Linked DNA regions of Homo sapiens. The protein of the gene in region 1 purifies or fractionates together with the protein of each later gene. This does not show direct contact. Each region holds a gene or a part of one and is shown on either strand. Other genes may lie near its edges. The genes, in order: ALDH9A1 and PGD.

Region 1 (3,915 bases):
AGGAATGTCATGTCCCCTGCCCTAAACTCATCAAGGATTTAGAGTTAAGAACCCCTGCCCTCTACTATTTTACAGTTGAGTTTACTAACATTAACTTCTGATTAAGTTTTGCAACACTCCTAAACATTATCTCAGAATCTCAGGGGTCTTGTAAAATGAAAGTCAAAAGTAATCAGTCTATTGGGTTATAAACTCTGACTGTAAATCCCTTGTCTATATTCTATGTAGGTTATATCATACTACTTGATACTTGATAAATATAGTTAATAAGCAGTAATATCAGGATAAGGCAACCCTAAAGGAACATTTTTTTTTTCTCAAAAATTCCCAGATTTCCTTTTCTTATTCCACCTTTATTCCCTCTCCCTATTCTGGTGCAAATTATGAAACAATCAGTTTTTCTAGGCCCATAGCCCAAGGACTGTACTGCCTCTACCAACAAGAATTCTTTAAGTTTGCCAACTCAGCAAATCCTCTTCACAAGAACTCCTGGGACTCTTTCCAGGGAGATTTCACAAATCTGCAATTTCTGTTACAAACTTGAATAGCCAGCTGGTAAAGGCGGTGGCTGAGGATCACACACACTGTAGGCAATTAAAGCAAAGAGCAATTTTTCTTTCTTTTGTATCAGGATTAAGTCGGGGTAGAGAAGCTGTTTCCTCCTATATAAAGAAGAGATGTGATAATGCCTTCTGGCTCTGCCAAGTCACTGCTCTGTGGTTTAGTGTGGATGGTCAAATACTAAATTCTCCAGTCCCCTGCAAATCAGTTTTATTGCTCTGGCTACATTTTACACAAAATATTTACATTTTTCTCCCCACATATATTCCATAAAACCCAGCAAAATAAACACAACACAAAACCAAAACAAAAAGCCCCTTCTTCCTTATCTCTGTGACCTTCAGAGTTCCCAGAGTAAATCCAGTGCCTAGCACAGTGCTTAGCACACATTAAGCACTGGATTAAAAAGTTTTATTTCAGCAAGATGAATAAATTGTGGAGAGCTCACGTAGACCATGGTGACTATGGTTACCAATACTGCATCATATACTTGAAATTTGCTAAAAGAATAGATCTTAAATATTTCACTATCCAAAAAAAGCCATTAACTATGCAGAAGCAATGGATAATTAGATTGACCGTGGTAACCATTTTGCAAGGTATACATACATTACAACACGTTTTACACCTTAAGTATATACAATTTTTATTTGTTAATTATACTTCAATAAAGCTGGGGAAGAAAGTACTGAATAAAGGTGGGGTTTTTTCCTTTCCCAATTCTGATTAATGTGCAGAAATATTTTAATATTAGAATGTGGAGACAAAGTCCTCATTCGTAGTCATTAGAAACTATCTGTGAGCGTTCCTTCATTCCCAGCACAAATGATTATCTTCCCCACAACCCCGCCCCGTTCTTTTAGAATTCCTCTCCTATGCACACATTTGAAGACAATAATACATCAGTCCTGGTTTTAAAAGGGGGAACAGTTGGCTGGGCTTGGTGGCTCACGGCTGTAATCCCAGCACTTTGGGAGGCTGAGGCGGGAGGATCACCTAAGCTCAGGAGTTCGAGACCAGCCTGAGTAACATGCTGAAAACCCGTCTCTACTAAAAATACAAAAATTAGCCGGACATGGTGGTGGGAGCCTGTAATCCCAGCTACCAGGGAGGCTGAGGCGGGAGAAGCACTTGAGCCCGTAAGGTAGAGGGCGCAGTGAGCTCTGAGATGGTGCCCCTGCACTCCAGCCTGGGCGACAGAGTGAGACCCTGTCTCAAAACAAACAAAAAACAAACAAACAAACAAAACAAACAAAAAAGGAAGTTAACAGAGGCACGACTTCCCCCACCAGTACTTTGCGAACTCTGTTCTGGCCCGGGTAAAACAACTCACGATCCTACCACGCAACTCATCAGCTTTGCTTTTCCTCCCTACCCATCCCTGCCCGGAGGCACTCGCGTTGCCCCAGAATCGCTAGTTGCCTACACACACAACCTTAGACTCTCCACTGTCACTGTCTTGTGCTCAAGTCAACGCTGCAGAACACAGGAAACGGGGGCTGGCCGGGAAATCCGCGCATCCGGCCCCAGGGCGCCCCAGCCTCCCCGGCTCGTTGCAGTTACCGGTTGCTGGCTCGAAAGCTTTCTCGGTACCGGAGGCGTCCGCCGGCTCCACGCGGGCCCCGCCGCGGTAATTGAGCGGCTGCGACACGACGAAGGTGCCAGTGCTCATGGCGGCGACAGGAGAGGGCCGAAGACTGCGAAGAAGCGGGGAGAGCGCGGCCAGGCCTGCTCGGAGAAACATGAGTGGCGGACGCAGCTCCGCGGCAGAGGCTGACGGGCCGCGGGAGGGGCGGGGCCGCGGGAGGGGCGGGGCCGCGGGATCGGTTCTAGGAGATTTTAGGGGCAGTCACTCGATTCCTCTGCGGTCCAGGCCAGGCCCTCCCCTCGCCAGGAGGGTGGAGCAAGACACCACATTCTCCCCACCACCCCGCCATACCCCACACAGTCTCCAGGCGGGAAGAGGACTTCCTTCTTCGTGATCAATATTTGCGTAGCACTTTGCAAGTGTTTTCGGGTTCATCATTGCATGTAAGCATCCTAGGATCCCATTCTTAATCCTATCGCCTGAAGAAGGCAGAGGATTGGAGTGCCAAGAGTCTTTGGTGGTTACTTCACTGCTAAACCACCGTTTCTGTAATTGTATAATGCTTTTTAAAGGGTGACAGTAAAAAGCAAGGGGACTGTGAACGAGATAGATGATATTGTGATCTGAAACTGCTTTTTAAATTCTTAAAGAGAGACTGGGCGCTGTGGCTCTCACCAAGGCTGGAGGATCGCTTGAGCCCAGGAGTTTGCGGGCAACAGAGAGAGATCCCGTGTCTATAAAAAAATAAAATAAAAATAATAAAAATTGGGCCGGGCGCGGTGGCTCACGCCTGTAATCCTAGCACTTTGGGAGGCCAAGGCGGGCAGATCACCTGAGGTCAGGAGTTCGAGACCAGCCTGACCAAAATGGTAAAACCCCGTCTCTACTAAAAATACAAAAATTAGCTGGGTGTGGTGGCGGGCGCCTGTAATCCCAGCTACTTGGGAGGCTGAGGTGGGAAAATCGCTTGAACCCGGGAGACGGGTTGCAGTGAGCCGAGACTATGCCATTGCACTCCAGTCTGGGTGACAAGAGTGAAACTCAGAAAAAAAAAAAATTATCCAGGTGTGGTGGCACACGCCTGTGGCCCCAGGTACTTGGGCGGCTAAGGTGGGAGGATCCCCTGAGCCCCGGGGGTCCAAGCTTGCAGTGAGCTATAATCGTGCCACTGCACTCAGGCCTGGGCAACAGAGCGAGACCCTGTCTCAAAATAAATAAATTCTGAAGGAGCAATGTAAATGCTATTAATGACAAATATTGATAGAAACAGAAGCCTAACATACAGAATACGAAGAGCAAAGGCCACAGGAAAAAGTGTCAGGAAACAAAATGCCTTCTGTAAGACAAAGCAGCCACCCAGAGGCACTCACAGGTCTGTCAGCTGAGGGATCTTGCACAAAGGTTCATTCTTCTCACCAAACTTCCATGCACCTCCAGTAGAGACTTTGACAAACAGAAAGTAATTGGCAATTTGGACATTTCTTTTAGGATTGTTTCTCTTCTGGGGGCTGCTGTCTTTCTCAATGTTTTTTCCTTTACCTGCCAGCTCACCAGCGCAATATTAGGGAGTGTGGTTTTCAGGTTTAGAGTATATATAATGTATTCTGATCAAGTTTTCTGGCACTCTATACCAGTTTGTTCACTTTTTCAGTGCTACTGAGATGTGTAGGTCTTGGTCCTCAGATGGAAACAGCAGTGCCCAAACTCAGAATACCTGAGGCCACACTCACATATTATTTTATTATTGTCCATTGCAAACAGAATTG
Region 2 (3,915 bases), about 160 Mb from region 1:
CTGAACCTGGTTATACTGAATTTCTGGCCACCAGAAGTGTTGTCTCCTCAGAGGCAAGGGCTCCTCACTTCACTTAGGTCTCTGTGCAGTGTCGCCTCCTCAGAAGCCTTCTGCAATCACCGGATCTTGTCCCAGTTTACTCTTCGTTCTCACAGTCATCGCTAACTAGTTTGATATTGTATATTTATTTCTGTCTGTCTTCCCAGCTCCGGGAGGGCAGGCACTTTGCTTTCTTCACTAGTATATCCCCAGCATTTAGAATCATGCTTGGCATATAGTAAAGCACTCGTGTGTTTGCTGAGTGAACACGTTAAGTATTATATATACCAATAAAAAATGAACACAAAAAGAATAGCACTGTTTCTGTGAAAGAAAACTAAGGTAATGTTTTAGAAAGAACAATTAACAGCAATCCAGTGAAACAAACAATAGTCAAAGTAAGTGAGGATGACATGAATAAAAAACTAGGAGGAAAACAACAAAAAATCTGGAAAGCTATACTGTATGCCTTGCTAGAGTCTGTAAATCACATCCCATTGGAAATAACTGAAACTAGAAATTCTAGATGGTAAGACACGACTAGAAAGCGCATCAGCAAACCATACTTAACGAGAAGGCCTTGGCCCTCCAAAAAATGGCGGGTGAATGAAAGTCCTTTCCTATGTTTTCAGTTAAAATCTATGTTTACCTCATGATAAAGATACATTCATCTAAAGTATTTAGGGAAAACAAAAGTATGGATACCTGCAGTTTACTTTGAATGTATCCAAAAAATAAGATGAAATTGGTGGGGGATGGACAGACATTGCTAAAGCAAGTACAGGAACCTGTGGATGGGAGAAAGGAGGAGGTGTGTATCCAGGTGTTCACTGTAAAACTCTCAAACTTCTGTGCTGCATGGTTGAATATTGTCATAATAAAATGTTGGGGGAAATGCTTCAGCTTCCCTACTTGGACTGACTTTTCAGATTAACTATCAAAAAGCCAATCCCAACTTGATCAGGAAAGAAAGCTTCTGCTGCATCTGCCATGTGGGACAACTGTGGGAGTAAATGGGACAGGTATGTGGAGTGACACAGTGCCTGACACCAGGTAAGCTACGCTAAATGGTGGTGATGATAACCACCCAGACTCTGTGGGGACTTTCTGCTTAGTGACTGACTAGCATAGTGTATAGGCCTATTACTAACAGTTTCCCTCAAATTAGGCTGAGTCCATGCAGGCCACCCGAATGGCCAAGGGGATAGGAATGAAGAAAAGATTCGGTGTCTGTGGCAAAGTGAGCACTCCCTGCAGAACGGACACAGAGGCAGTGCCGGGGCCTCACCTGGGCCATCTCGTCCTGCGCCATGCCCAGCACGTCTTTCATCAGGTGGTATGCCTCACAGATCAGCTGCATGTCCCCATACTCTATCCCGTTGTGCACCATCTTCACGAAGTGGCCTGCTCCCTCATCTCCCACCTGTCAGGACAACAAGCACCAAGAGGCCTTCAGAGAAACAGGCGACACATCAGAGAAGTCCACATCAGCTTTCATGCCAACATCCCTGGCAAGGCTACCTCTCCACACAAAAAATAACAAGTATAAAATGAGTACAGCATTTTTGATACAAGAATCATATAGCAATTCAAAGCAAGCTTCAGTCCAGTACAATATTATTTAACACTAATTCTAGACTCATTCTTCTCAAGGTTTCTCAAAGTCCCTGAATTCACTTTCAATACTTATGGCTCTCTAGCCTGTATTTTCTACTCTTTCTCATCATTCAAAGCAACTCCCCACCTTCCCAGCCCCCACCCACAAGAAAAAAAGTCCTCTTTTTCCCAAAGTTACCACTTTTCTAGCAACTAGAGGTTAAAATATATTGGCCAATTAAATCACTTGTTTTTTTTCAAAATATAAATGTATTGTAGTTGTTCCTAATGGCTACTGAAAAGTAAAATGACCCTAGATCCAAGGTCTCAACCTTGTAAGCCCAGAAAGGAGTCCCTCCAAGGCCCCATCATTATATTTATATTTATATTTATATTTATAAATAAAGACCAGATCTTTATTTATAAGCTGGCAAGATGTATAAAATCAGAATACCCGTTAATGAATGTAGGATGAAAACCTTAACTATGGATCTTCGTGGTTACAAATGTTAGTCCGGTCAACACATTCTGGCCCTATAGACAAGCAACTGGGAAGCCAGATTATCCGAAAATTATTTAGTTGTCAAGAACTGGAACAAAGGGAGTGACGAGAGCCAAACAGTTCATGGCATCAAACTCTCAGTCATCTACACCCAGCTCCATGACAGGGACACACCTGCCCAGGAGGCCAGGTGTTTGGATGACCTGGGCAGTCTCTCTCCTGGCTGTCACCACCTGGACCGTCAGTTGTATAACTGACGCTCACATCAGGACTCCATTGTCCGTGTTTCTTTTTTTTTTTTGAAACGGAGTCTCGCTCTGTCGCCCAGGCTGGAGTGCAGCGGTGTGATCTTGGCTCAGCACAACACCTGCCTCCTGGGTTCAAGCAATTCTAACGCCTCAGCCTCCTGATGAGCTGGGATTACAGGAGCACACCGCCACACTCAGCTAATTTTTGTAGACATGGAGTTTCACCATGTTGGCCAGGCTGGTCTCAAACTCCTGACCTCAGGTGATCCACTCACCTCAGCCTCTCACAGTGCTGGGATTCCAGGCATGAGCCACCACGCCTGGCCTTGTCCATGTTTCTATTGCTGCCCCTGCTGACTTCTGATTTTGACACTCTGGCCACAGAGTAACATGGCTGCTAACATCTTACTTCACCTTACCCTTCCTGCCACTTCAGCCATGAACTAAGGAGGGCCTGCTTGATCAACACACGTAGGGGCAAGGACTGTGCTTCTCTTCATGACTTTGTCCTAAGTGTGTGTATCTAAAAAAAAGTTGCAGGCTGGGTGCGGTGGCTCACGCCTATAATCCCAACACTTTGGGAGGCCAAGGTGGGCCGATTACTTGAAGTCAGGAGTTTAAGACCAGCTTGGGCAACATGGTGAAACCCCATCTCTACCAAAAATACAAAAATTAGCCAGGCATGGTGGCACATGCCTGTAATCCCAGCTACAATGGAGGCTGAGGCATGAGAATCGCTTGAACCCAGGAGGCGGAAGTTGCAGTGAGCTGAGATTATGCCACTGCACTCCAGCCTGGACGATAAAGCAAGACTGTCTCAAAAAAAAAAAAAAAAAAAAAAAAAAGTTGCTACCACTCACTTTTATTGCAGTGATCTTTTTGTTTTTTTCTGTTTAAGAGACAGGGTCTCTCTCTGTTACCCAGGCCAGAGTGCAGTAGTATGATCACTGCTCACTGCAGCCTTGAACTCGTGGGCTCAAGGGATCCTCCCAAAATACTGGATTATAAGCACGAGCCACTACACCCGGCCTTTTACCGCAGTAATCTACTGTCAGGGAACAGAGGTCCCTTTCCAATCCTTCACACTAATGAGAAGATTACTCAGCTCTTTACGTCAGTCCCAGCACCAGCCTCTTTCTACCCTAAGCAGATTCTGACTGAGCTCAATGGCCAACCACTGGTGAAAAGGTAAGGACAAGTGAGCTGCTGTGGCCAAAGCCACCAAGCACTGGCAGGCCTAGGAGGGAGGGCTTCCCGGATTCCTCAAAGGCCTGAGTCCTTATTTCAACCTCAGCATTGATTTCATATAAAATAAAATTGAATAATAAAATTCACATTAAAATTGCTGATATAAAATTAAAGGGAATCAGGAGCTGAAGAGAGCTTGGAGATCATGTAATCCAACCCCATATCTTACAGATAAGGAAACTGAAGTCCATGAAGGGACGTGGCTTGCCTGATGTCACAGTTAAGTTTATGGAAAGCCAGAACTGCCACTCAGGTCTCCTGAGCCTAATGCTTTTTTCCATC

What was found.
Region 2: the proteins of ALDH9A1 (region 1) and PGD fractionate together in Homo sapiens (co-fractionation; 2 studies listed by BioGRID). This does not show direct contact.

What each region holds. Positions count from the first base shown.
Region 1 is NC_000001.11:165,696,254-165,700,168, forward strand, and holds the start of ALDH9A1 (4-trimethylaminobutyraldehyde dehydrogenase isoform 1 precursor), read right to left. Parts: upstream 2,310-3,915; 5' UTR 2,306-2,309; coding exon 2,125-2,305; exon of another isoform or gene 1,997-2,124; intron 1-1,996. UniProt on the Homo sapiens protein: Converts gamma-trimethylaminobutyraldehyde into gamma-butyrobetaine with high efficiency (in vitro). Can catalyze the irreversible oxidation of a broad range of aldehydes to the corresponding acids in an NAD-dependent reaction, but with low efficiency.
Region 2 is NC_000001.11:10,408,965-10,412,879, reverse strand, and holds part of PGD (6-phosphogluconate dehydrogenase, decarboxylating), read right to left. Parts: intron 1,463-3,915; coding exon 1,328-1,462; intron 1-1,327. UniProt on the Homo sapiens protein: Catalyzes the oxidative decarboxylation of 6-phosphogluconate to ribulose 5-phosphate and CO(2), with concomitant reduction of NADP to NADPH.